Linked DNA regions of Homo sapiens: region 2 is linked to region 1. The links come from fine-mapping of genetic effects on gene expression. A gene starts in region 1. The other region holds a variant in brackets. All regions are shown on one strand. Distances are between the middles of the regions.

What was found. PIP is the estimated chance that this variant, and not a neighbour inherited with it, causes the effect.
Region 2: its variant is fine-mapped to the expression of GTSE1-DT in esophagus muscle (GTEx, PIP 0.92).

The regions. Positions count from the first base shown.
Region 1 is chr22:46,293,911-46,299,280 of GRCh38, reverse strand. It overlaps GTSE1-DT (GTSE1 divergent transcript), which reads left to right and starts at 2,621. Exons shown (of 1, transcript NR_024009.1): 1 at 2,621-4,138. It overlaps GTSE1 (G2 and S-phase expressed 1), which reads right to left and starts at 2,411. Exons shown (of 12, transcript NM_016426.7): 1 at 2,350-2,411; 2 at 1,802-1,901. The coding sequence starts at 1,880. It overlaps TTC38 (tetratricopeptide repeat domain 38), which reads right to left. Exons shown (of 14, transcript NM_017931.4): 14 at 5,273-5,370. RefSeq lists an enhancer at 1,894-2,003 and a silencer at 2,154-2,353.
Region 2 is chr22:46,266,293-46,271,662 of GRCh38, reverse strand. TTC38 (tetratricopeptide repeat domain 38) reads right to left here and starts at 3,655. Exons shown (of 14, transcript NM_017931.4): 1 at 3,591-3,655; 2 at 3,072-3,149. The coding sequence starts at 3,623. RefSeq lists silencers at 3,379-3,588, 3,599-3,758. The variant C/T (reference allele first, on the strand shown) is at 2,922.

The DNA.
Region 1 (5,370 bases):
GGGCGAAAGCACAAAGCGGTCCCAGAGCAGGTCTTGGGGAAATCAGCCTCAGAAGACAGCAGAGGGGGAGCCCCCGACAGAGAAAAGATACACCAGCCAGAGAGGCAGGAGGAAAAAACCAAGAGCGTCTTGGACTCCAAGCAAGGGAAGTTTCCAGAAGGACGAATGTTACTGAAAAGCTGACTGGCGATAGAAAAGTGAAAAGAGATTCAGCAATGTGGAAGTCGTCAACGACTGATGAAAGCAGCTTGAATGGAGTGGTAAGGACAGAAGCCGGAATGGGAGGGATTGAGAGGCGGAAAAAAATGGCATAACAAGTGAGAAAGCTCTCAAAGTTTGGCTTGGAAGGAGAAACACAGCAATGGAGAGGCAACGGAGGAGACGTGGCGACAAGTGAGACAAGGGAACATTATCTGTATGTGGATGCGCATGATCCAGTAGTGGACAGGGGAAAAGTAAGGAAATGAAGTCAGGTCAACGGAAGTGGGGAAGGCCTCAAGAAGGAGCAGGGGGTGCAGTATGCACGTGGAAAGGACATATTTGAAAGGAAGGACATGACAGGAAGGAGGAGAGGGGTGCAGAGGCAAGCGCCTTGCTAGATATGAAGATGCAACATTGATTTGTAAAGTCTCCAGGACAGTTCCTGCAAAATGGAGGCATTGAGGATGCTTGGGGCCAGGCGCGGTGGTTCACACCTGTAATCCCAGTACTTTGGGAGGCCTAGGCAGGTGGATCACCTGAGGTCAGGAGTTTGAGACCAGCCTGGCCAACATGGTAAAACCCCATCTCTACTAAAAATACAAAAATCAGCCAGGTGTGGTGGCGGGTGCCTGTAATCCCAGCTACTCGGGAGGCTGAGGCAGGAGAATCGCTTGAACCCGAAAGGCAGAGGTTGCAGTGAGCCAAGATCATGCCACTGCACTCCAGCCTGGGAGACAGAGTGAGACTTGGTCTCAAAAAGAAAGGATCCTTGGGTAGTGTGAGAAAACTACCCAAGGGATGTCAAAATGCTTTGTGAGGCTGGGTGAGGTGGCTCACACCTATAATCCTAGCACTTTGGGAGGCCGAGGCAGGCAGATTGCCTGAGCTCAGGAGTTCGAGACCAGCCTGGGCAACATGGCAAAACCCCGTCTCTGTTAAAAATACAAAAATGAGCCAGGTGTGGCAGCGGGTGCCTGTAATCCCAGTTACTAGGGAGGCTGAGGCAGGAGAATCCCTTCAACTCAGGAGAGAGAGGTTGCAGTGAGTACAGATCACGCCTTTGCACTCCAGCCTGGGTGAGAGAGCGAGACTCCGTCAATAAATAAATAAATAAATAAATAAAAACGCTTTGAGAGAAAAAGAGGGTGTGGCCTGTAACTCATTCTGTGAAGCTGTACCCTCACCTTGATACCCAAACCAGTCAAAGACACAAGAAGAAAGGGGTTTGGGGCCAGGCTTACTCATTAACATGGTCTCAAAGATCCTAAATAAGTCTTAGCAAACAGAAACCAGCGACAAACAAAAAAGAAAACATCGAATTCAATACAATAAATATTTGAGAGCCCACAAAGTGTTAGGTGCTGTTCAGGGCATGGGAGCACTGCGGTAAATAAAACGGATGAGAATCCTGGCTGTGATGAAACTTAAAATGGGGAGGAGGTGAAAGAAAACCAGAAAACGAAGGCAGATGTCATGTGTTTCACAGGTGCAGAGTACAAGTCGAGCACTTGAGAAAGAATTTCTCAGGGAAACATTAAATCACCCTCCATCTCTACTGAACATCCTGAACAACAACAGCGCCGCAGCAGCAAGGACTTGCCTTCCTTCTTAGGGTCATCCATGTTCACGTCCCCTGCCCGGCAGGCTGAAGGCTCATCGCGGCCGCCGCCTCCTTCCATGGAGAGAGCTGTCAGAAGTCACTGCAGGGTGGAACGGGGCCAGAAAGTGAGTACGTGTCAGGGCCCAGGGCTCCGGCTTCCTTCAGCCCTCGGCTCACAGAGGCAGAGAGAGCTGAAGGCCGCGGCCAGGTCTGGGAGAGGCGGCGCGGGGGCCGCTCTGAAATGATCGCATCCCAGGGGACCCCAGGGCCCGAGTGCCGCCAGGCCGGGAGTCAGCCCGAACGCCATCAGACGAGATAACGGAATTCTCGGCTTCTGGGCCAGAGTGTTGGGGGCTCTGTTTGCCTGGGGGGCAGCCCTAGACCTCCCGGCATCCCCGACCACGGCGCGAGGGGCCTCAGTGACCCCTGCTCGAGCCCAGGCCCGGCTCCTGGCGGGGCGCGGCCCCTCCCCGTCCCGAAAACGGCGGGCACCGCGCCGCACCGGGCCCACCGGGCAAGCCTCGCCCCCGACCCTGACCCCACCTTACCCAAAGCGGCAGACGATGCAGGACGCGCCTCCGGCACGGATTTAAACGCGGCGCCGGGAGACGCGGGTTGCCGATTGGTCGGTTTGAAAAGGGCTCCGAGAGGCGGCGGGCTGGGTGCGTCCTGGGTATTGTAGTCAGGACGCTGGTAAGAAGCGTCCAGTGCGCATGCGCACTGCTTCAGCGCAGCGAATGGCTCCGCACAGCGCCAGGGATCACCCACCCGGAAGTCTGCCCGGCCTGGCCGCCAAGTGTCACTAGGTATCCGCGTCAAGCCGGAACCATGTATAGCAGCTCCTTGTGTGTAGGGAGAAAGTTAAAACTGCCATCTAAGGGTGTCGATGGGAAGACTAAAAGTAGGCTCACCCACCTGCTGTGAAGCAGCGCGCGCGAGCTGTTACTAACAGTAGTGAAAAGCCGGGATCCCTGCCCCCGAGGCACGCACTGGGGCGCCGGCTGACCCAGAGACCTGAGGGAGACTCATTGCCGGAGCTGCACAGCCTGTGGGGCTGGAGGGGAACCGTCGCCCTTGGCGGGCTTCCCCAACCGCCAAGGCCTGAGGACCGCCGAGGGCGTGGCGGGAGCCTGTCCTCGGTTTTACAGGCCGGCTGGGGAGCTGCGTTGGAGGAGAGAGCCAGGGGCTGGGGCCCGGTGATGGAGCCTGCCTTGGGGAGTGCATGTGTTGGAGAGAGGTGGGAAGCAGATAGGATAACCCTGACCTGAGCCATGGAGACGCAAGGACAGGACTGGTAGACGGGTCAGTGGGCAGCAACTTAAGACTGACCTCGCTTGAGCCTTTGCCTGCGAACGAGGTATAATACCCACCTCGGGGGCTTGAGGATCAAATGAGGGGCTCCACCCACGGCAAAGTGTCACTAAGCGGGATGGAGGAGGATGCAGGAAGAGGAGTCTGGGAGGACCCGCTCTGAAAAGGATGGAACTCGAGAGCACCATTTTCAGGGACGAAGATAAGCTGTTTATTTGGGGCAGGCTGTGGGGAGAGCTGTGCAGCAAACAGCCACCCGGGGCCCAGGGCAGAGGCCTTCCAGGCTGGCTCGGGCACTTCTGGGTCCCATGTCCCTGGTTTTGCATCATCCATACCAATCACTCCATGTTGCTATGTTCCTTCACCAGAAGACTGGGGGCTCAAAAAGGGCAGGGCAGCCCTCACTCACCAGTCTCCCCAGCCTCACCCAGCTCAGCACAGGGCACCAGGCAGGGGCTGAGAGTGCTGGGGTAGGTGGGTGTGGTCAAACAGCTTGGAAAGAGTTTGGCCTGCTCATTGCATTCCCCTCAGCTCATCCTGGGGATGTCTGCTCATGGGAGAATGGCAGAGGGATCCCCAACAGTCATTCCTGATACTCCTCTCCCTGTATCATGTCAGCACATAGTAGGTGTGGCCTATGTATGGCAGATTCATTTCTGCCCCCAATAGGATTTGCTGTAGTTTGGATGTGTGTCCCCTCAAAATCTCATGTTGAAATGTGATCCCAATGTTGGAAGTGGGGCCTGGTGGGAAGTAATTGGGTCGTGAGGGCAGATCCCTTATGAATGGTTCAGCACCATCCCCTTGGTGATGAGTTCTTGCTTAGTTCACACAAGATCTGGTTATTTAAGAGTCTAAGACCTCCCCTTCTCTCTTACTCCTGCTCTCACTATGTGATATACTGGCTCCCCATCACCTTATGTCATGATCTTAAGCTTCCTGAGGTTGCACCAGAAGCAGATGCCAGCACCATACTTCCTGAAAAGCCTGCAGAACTGTGAGCCAATTAAACCTCTTTATAAATTACCTAGCGTCAGGTATTTCTTCATAGCAATGCAAGAAGGCCTAATACAGAGTTTGACTTCATTTATTTATGCCTTCATTCACCAACTTTCACTGACAGCTACTCAGTGCAGGCCATGTGCCAGGTGATGCTGGGGACAGATGCTGTCCCTGACCTGGAGAGGTCATGGCAGGGGTGCAAGAGCAAGGGCAAGTGCCAAGGGCTGAGGGGCACAGAGGCAGCACCCTCACCAGCCTGCAGTGGGGGTTGGCGGGTAGAAGGCTTCCTGGAGGAGGGACCAGGGTTCCCAATTGCACAGCCAAGTCATGTCTTCTTGCTTGGAACCAGGAGAGGGGAAGGAGGCTCCCCTTAGGATGTGTCCCTAGTTCTTGGGTAGAGAAGGCGCCTCTCTGGAAATACTACTATAATTACCCCTTTTCTTTCTTTCTTTTTTTTTTTTTTTGAGACGGAGTCTTGCTTTGTCGCCCAGGCTGGAGTGCAGTGGCGCGATCTCCGCTCACTGCAAGCTCTGCCTCCCGGGTTCACGCCATTCTCCTGCCTCAGCCTCCCGAGTAGCTGGGACTACAGGCGCCCACCACCATGCCCGGCTAATTTTTTGTATTTTTAATAGAGATGGGGTTTCACCGTGTTAGCCAGGATGGTCTTGATCTCCTGACCTCGTGATCTACCTGCCTCAGCCTCCCAAAGTGCTGGGATTACAGACGTGAGCCACTGCGCCCGACCTCCCATTTTCTTGACTAGATGCCCCACCTACTTTTTTTTTTTTTTCCCTTGAGATGGGAGTCTCGCTCTGTTGCCCAGACTGCAGTGCAATGGCACGATCTTGGCTCACTGCAATCACTGCCTCCCAGGTTCAAGTGATTCTCCTGCCTCAGCCTCCCGAGTAGCTGGGATTACAGACGTGTGCCACCATGCTCAGCTAATTTTTGTATTTTCAGTAGACACAGGGTTTCACCATGTTGGCCAGGCTGATCTCGAACTCCTGACATCAGGGGATCCACCCACCTCAGCCTCCCAAAGTGGTGGGATTACAGGCGTGAGCCACTGCGCCTGGCCTGCCCCACCTACCTTAAGTTCAAGGAGAAGCCATCTCCCCAGGACCCAGCCCCAGGCCTGCACCACAGATGCTCAAAGACTTGGAGGAACTGATGAATTCATTTTAATCACAGAAATTTGCCTGGGCTTGAGCAAACTGTGGGGACTCAATAGATTTGGAGGCCTCCTCTCCCTTCTG
Region 2 (5,370 bases), 28 kb after region 1:
GGCACATGTCTGTAGTCCTAGCAACTTGGGCGGCTGAGACTTGGGTGGCTGAGACAGGAGAATCGCCTGAACCTGGGAGGTAGAGGTTGCAGTGAGCTGAGATCGTGCCACTGCACCCCAGCCTGGGTGACAGAGAAAAGGAAAAAAAAAGGCCAGGTGTGGTGGCTCATGCCTGTAAGCCCAGCACTTTGGGAGGCCGAGGTGGGCGGATCATGAGGTCAGGAGATCGAGACCATCCTGGCTAACACGGTGAAACCCCCGTCTCTACTAAAGATACAAAAAATCAGCCGGGTGTGGTGGTGGGCGCCTGTAATCCCAGCTACTCGGGAGGCTGAGGCAGGAGAATGGCGTGAACCCAGGCGCCACTGCACTCCAGCCTGGGCGACAGAGTGAGACTCTGTCTCAAAAAAGAAAAAAAAGAAAAAAGAAAAGAAAGAAAAGGCAGGTTCCTCCTGACAGGTGACCTGCTCCACATCGGCTTCTTCTGCCCTAAGAGGAGCCCTGAAGTTGGTCACGATAGGAATATTCCTGCTTCTTATTCATTCGTTTTAAAAATATTCACAGAAAACATTTATTTTAGAGAGTTAGAAAGACACAAAAGCTGAAAGATAAAACTTACCCAAAGCTCATTTTATCATTTTTTTTTTAATTGAGACAGAATCTTGCCCTGTCACCCAGGCTGGAGTGCAATGGCACGATCTTGGCTCACTGCAACCTCTGCCTCCAGGTTTCAAGCAATTCTCCTGCCTTGGTAGGAGAATCCCTCCTTAGTAGCTGGGATTACAGGTGTGCACCACTGCGCCCGGCTAATTTTTTTTTTTTCTTTTTTGAGATGGAGTCTTGCCCTGTCACCCAGGCTGGAAGGCAGTGGCACTATCTCAGCTCACTACAACCTCCACCTCCCTGGTTCAAGAATTCCTCTGCCTCAGCCTCCCGAGTAGCTGGGATTACAGGCCCATGCCACCATGCCCGGCTAATTTTTTTATATTTTTAGTAGAGACAGGGTTTCACCATGTTGGCCAGGCTGGTGTTGAACTCCTGACCTCAGATGATCCACCTGCCTCAGCCTCCCAAAGTGCTGGGATTACAGGCGTGAGTCACCGCGCCCAGCGCATCATCATTTTTAACAATTTGCTGTATTTGTACCTGGTCCTTTACTCAAATGCCTGTTTTAAAAAAAGTCCTAGACCTATAATCACACATTAGATTTTAAAATATGCCCTTTCAGCTGTCTAACCTACATCTACACAGAATTAGTACGTGTATTTTTTTTTTAAGACAGGGTTTGCTCTGTTGCCCAGGATGGAGTACAGTGGCACAATCACAGCTCACTTCAGTCTCAACCGCCCAGGCTCAAGCAATCCCCCTGCCTCAGCCTCCCAAATAGCTGAGACTATAAGCTACGCAAGCATTTTGACAAGATACAGGAGGGTTGGCACAGAGATTTAAAGAAGCCAAGTTCTAACACAGGACAGCACAGAGACACCAATACACGGGACAAAATATACCCAGGCTGGGAGGATGAGCTGCCACTGATTGGGGATGTGGTGTGTAACAAACTGAGTACTAGGGGCCGGGCACAGTGGCTCACGCCTGTAATCCCAGCACTTTGAGAGGCCAAGGCAGGGGAATCACAAGGTCAGGAGTTTGTGACCATCCTGACCAACATGGTGAAACCCCGTCTCTACTAAAGATACAAAAAATCAGCTGGGTATGATGGTGCGTGCCTATAATCCCAGCTACTTCGGAGGCTGAGGCAGGGCAATCGCTTGAACCCGAGAGGCAGAGTTTGCAGTGAGTCAAGACTGCGCCATTGCACTCCAGCCTGGGTGACAGGGCAAGACTCCGTCTCAAACAAAAAACAAATCGAGTACTCTACAGAGGCCGGCGAGATACAGGAAGGGCAAGTGAGCCAGGTCAAACACAAAATAAACAAACAACTCAGATGCCCACAGCAGAGTCCCTTGGCAGGGCAGGCTGGGAACAGGAGAGGCACCCATGGCGCAGCTCACAGCATTCCATCAGTCCTCTCTTGTTCAGCCCGTAGGCTTCTAAGAGCTACCTGAGTCCTCCTGTTATGTGGATGAAGTCAGTATGCAGGGGCCTCACCACCCACGCCAAGGTCAGCTTAGGTTTCTATCAGTGCAGTTAGGCCCAGGTTCATCCTGGTTCTGCCTGTAATTCATGGACAACCTTCAAGTCAAGTAGGTTCAACTCTGAGCCTCAGTTTCCCCACTTGTCAAGGAAGCTAGTTGGATCTTACTTCTGAGACTTCTCCTAGTTCTAAAACTATAGGACCCTTCATTGGTAGAGAAATGACTGGTAATGTGGCAGAAGGTCTTGGCACAGCCTAGGTGAAGGCAGTATACTCACAGATTCATCCCAGGACAGGATCCCACGTCCTAAGCAGCCGAGCCCTGCATCAGACCCTCAGCAGGCCACAATGGGAGGCCCGGGGAGGCCAGCATCCTCAAAAAACATCCCCACTGCACCCACCGCTGTCCACCCACCACTCAGAGTCCTGGGGAAGAAGGGAGAGTGCAGAGGCCCTTTTAGGACGCTGTGGGGGGGGGGCAGAGATATGTCCCCACCCTCCCACGTCCTCCAGTACAAAGTGCACAGATGTGCTGCCATCTATTGCTAAGGTCATGGCGCAATTTAAAAAGCTTTCCCCATGGCCGGGCGCGGTGGCTCACGCCTGTAATCCCAGCACTTTGGGAGGCCGAGGCGGGCGGATCACGAGGTCAGGAGATCGAGACCATCCTGGCTAACACGGTGAAACCCCGTCTCTACTAAAAAATACAAAAAAAATTAGTCGAGGGCAGTGGCGGGCGCCTGTAGTCCCAGCTACTCGGGAGGCTGAGGGACGAGAATGGCGTGAACCCGGGAGGCAAAGCTTGCAGTGAGCCGAAATAGCGCCA[C/T]TGCACTCCAGCCTGGGCGACAGAGCGAGACTCCGCCTCAAAAACAAAACAAAACAAAACAAAACAAAACAAAAAAACAGCTTTCCCCAATTAAAAAACCTTCCCCTAGACCTCCACAGAAGGGGCCGCGGCCTCTCTCGGCAGGCATACCTGGGTCAGCGTGGCATCGAACAGCTTGCAGGCTTCGTTGCTTGTGGTGGAGAGCGGGAGCCTCGCATCCTTCCAGGCCTACAGACGGCAAGAAGGGAATAGCAGTGCCTTCTCTCCAGGAGCCCTTCAAACTTCAACACACACACGTCTCCTGGCCCCTCTGACCTCCACCTTCCTCATCTGTAAAATGGGCTCAGGCTCCCAGTCCTGGGCCGGTTCCAAGGAGCCCCTTACCTTTGCGGGCTTCCCTGCGTCCCCAGCCATGCCCAGTGAGCTACGTTTTTTAGGAGGTCTTGGGGTCTCCCGAGTACCCTGACAGGCGTCCCTTATTTCCCTCGGTGGGGACTCTACAAGAAGGGCCTCGGGTCCCTTCCAGGCGTTGCCGCGGACGCGCCCGTGCGCCCAGGGCTCACCCCACGCCCCGCGCCCGGGCCATGTCTCCCGTTATTCCGCCAGCACCGGGCCACCCCCAGGACCCGGGGCCCGAGGGGGACCTGGTTGGGGGCAGCCTCCGTGTACCTGGCAGTCGCGCAGAGGCGAGGCTGCGGCCATGTTGCGCCGGGTCGGAGTCCACCGCGAGCTCTGGGCACCCGGGCCTTCCTGGGAGTGGGCGGGGCGGTCGCGGAAAGGGGCGGGGCGGGGCGGCCGCGCTCTCCCGCTCGCTCACTGGTGGGTTTCGGACAGACTGGCCCTGGTCCAGGATCCGGGCCCGCCCCAGAGGCCCGACCGGACAACTCTGCAACGCGACGGGTCCCTTGGGAGCAGGGAGCTCCGGGACAGCGGTCACTTTCAAGTTTATGTCGTTGCGGTCGGCAGCTACCCGCGCGCGCACGGCACACACTCACTTGGCGTTCGGGGCCGGCTTCACTGGGTCGTCCCGCCGCCTCCATCCTCCCTTCTCAAGGATTTGCAGCGGAAAAATCGCTCTGTCTCCTGCAGTAGCGGCTTCTCCCTCTGGACTGGCCCGGTCTGGCCCGGCCTGAACTCTGCCATCAGCCACACACCAGCCCCAGTCCAATGGGCTCCCCTAGTTTAATTTGCCCCCGCCCCAGGGTGCACGAATCAAGGGCGTAGAACCAAGTGCACGGGCAGATCTGGCCTTTATTTAAAATGCTATTTTGTTCATCATGGACTTTTTGCATTAGTTTTGATTTTTGAAATATTGCACTGAAGTATTATTTGTTTTATGTGAGAGCTGTAAAGATAAAACTCTTAGAAGAAAACAGAAGTAAATCTTCATGGCCTTGGATTTAGCAATGGATTCTTAGATGTAACACCAAAAGGACAAGCAACAACAACAAAATAGATAAGTTGGACTTCGTCAAAATTAAAAACTTTTCTGAATCAAAGGACACTACTCAGGAAACTGAAAAGATTAACACAATGGGAAAAAACATTTGTAAATCATATATTGGGTAAGAGTCTAGAATCCAGAATACATAAAGAAATCTTGGCCGGGCACAGCAGCTCATGTCTGTAATCCCAGCCCTTTGGGAGGCTGAGTCAGGTGGATCACCTGAGGTCAGGAGTTCAAGACCAGCCTGGCCAACATGGTGAAACCTTATCTCTATTAAAAGTACAAAAATAGCCAGGCGTGGTGGTGCATGCCTGTAATCCCAACTACTTGGGTGGCTGAGGCAGGAGAATCGCTTGAACCCGGGAAGTGGAGGTTGGAGTAAGCCAAGATTGTGCCACTGCACTCCAACCTGGGCAACAGAGCCAGACTCTGTCTCAAAAAAAAAGAATTCTTACAACTCAACAGCGAAATGACAAACAGCCCAAATTTAAAGTGGGCAAAGAATTTGAGGTGACAGTTCTCCAAAGAAGACACACCTTTCCTACAGCGTTTTCAAGGTTCATTCATACTGAAGGAAGAGGCAGACACAAAAGGTAACACTTGTATTAGTGCATTTACATGCATGTCCAGAATACGCAAACATAGAGACAGAAAGAAGATTGGTGGTGACCAGGGACTGAGGGGATAGGGATGATAAGTCACTGAAGCCTTGAACTCCTGGCTCCAGCAATCCTCCCACCTCAGCCTCCCATAAATGGTTACTTTTATGTGAACTTTACCTCAATAAAAGAGAATTTGTCTTGATTATTGAGTTTTTGGTGCCCCTCCACCCTTAAATTTTGCACTTGAGCTGAGTACTAATATGGACTAATACAGTAAATTGGTACCATTAGAGTGGGGTGTTGCCAAAAATATACCTGAAAATGTGGAAGCAACTTTGGAACTGGGTAACAGGCAGAGGTTGGAACAGTTTGGAGGGCTCAGAAGACAGGAGTATGTGGG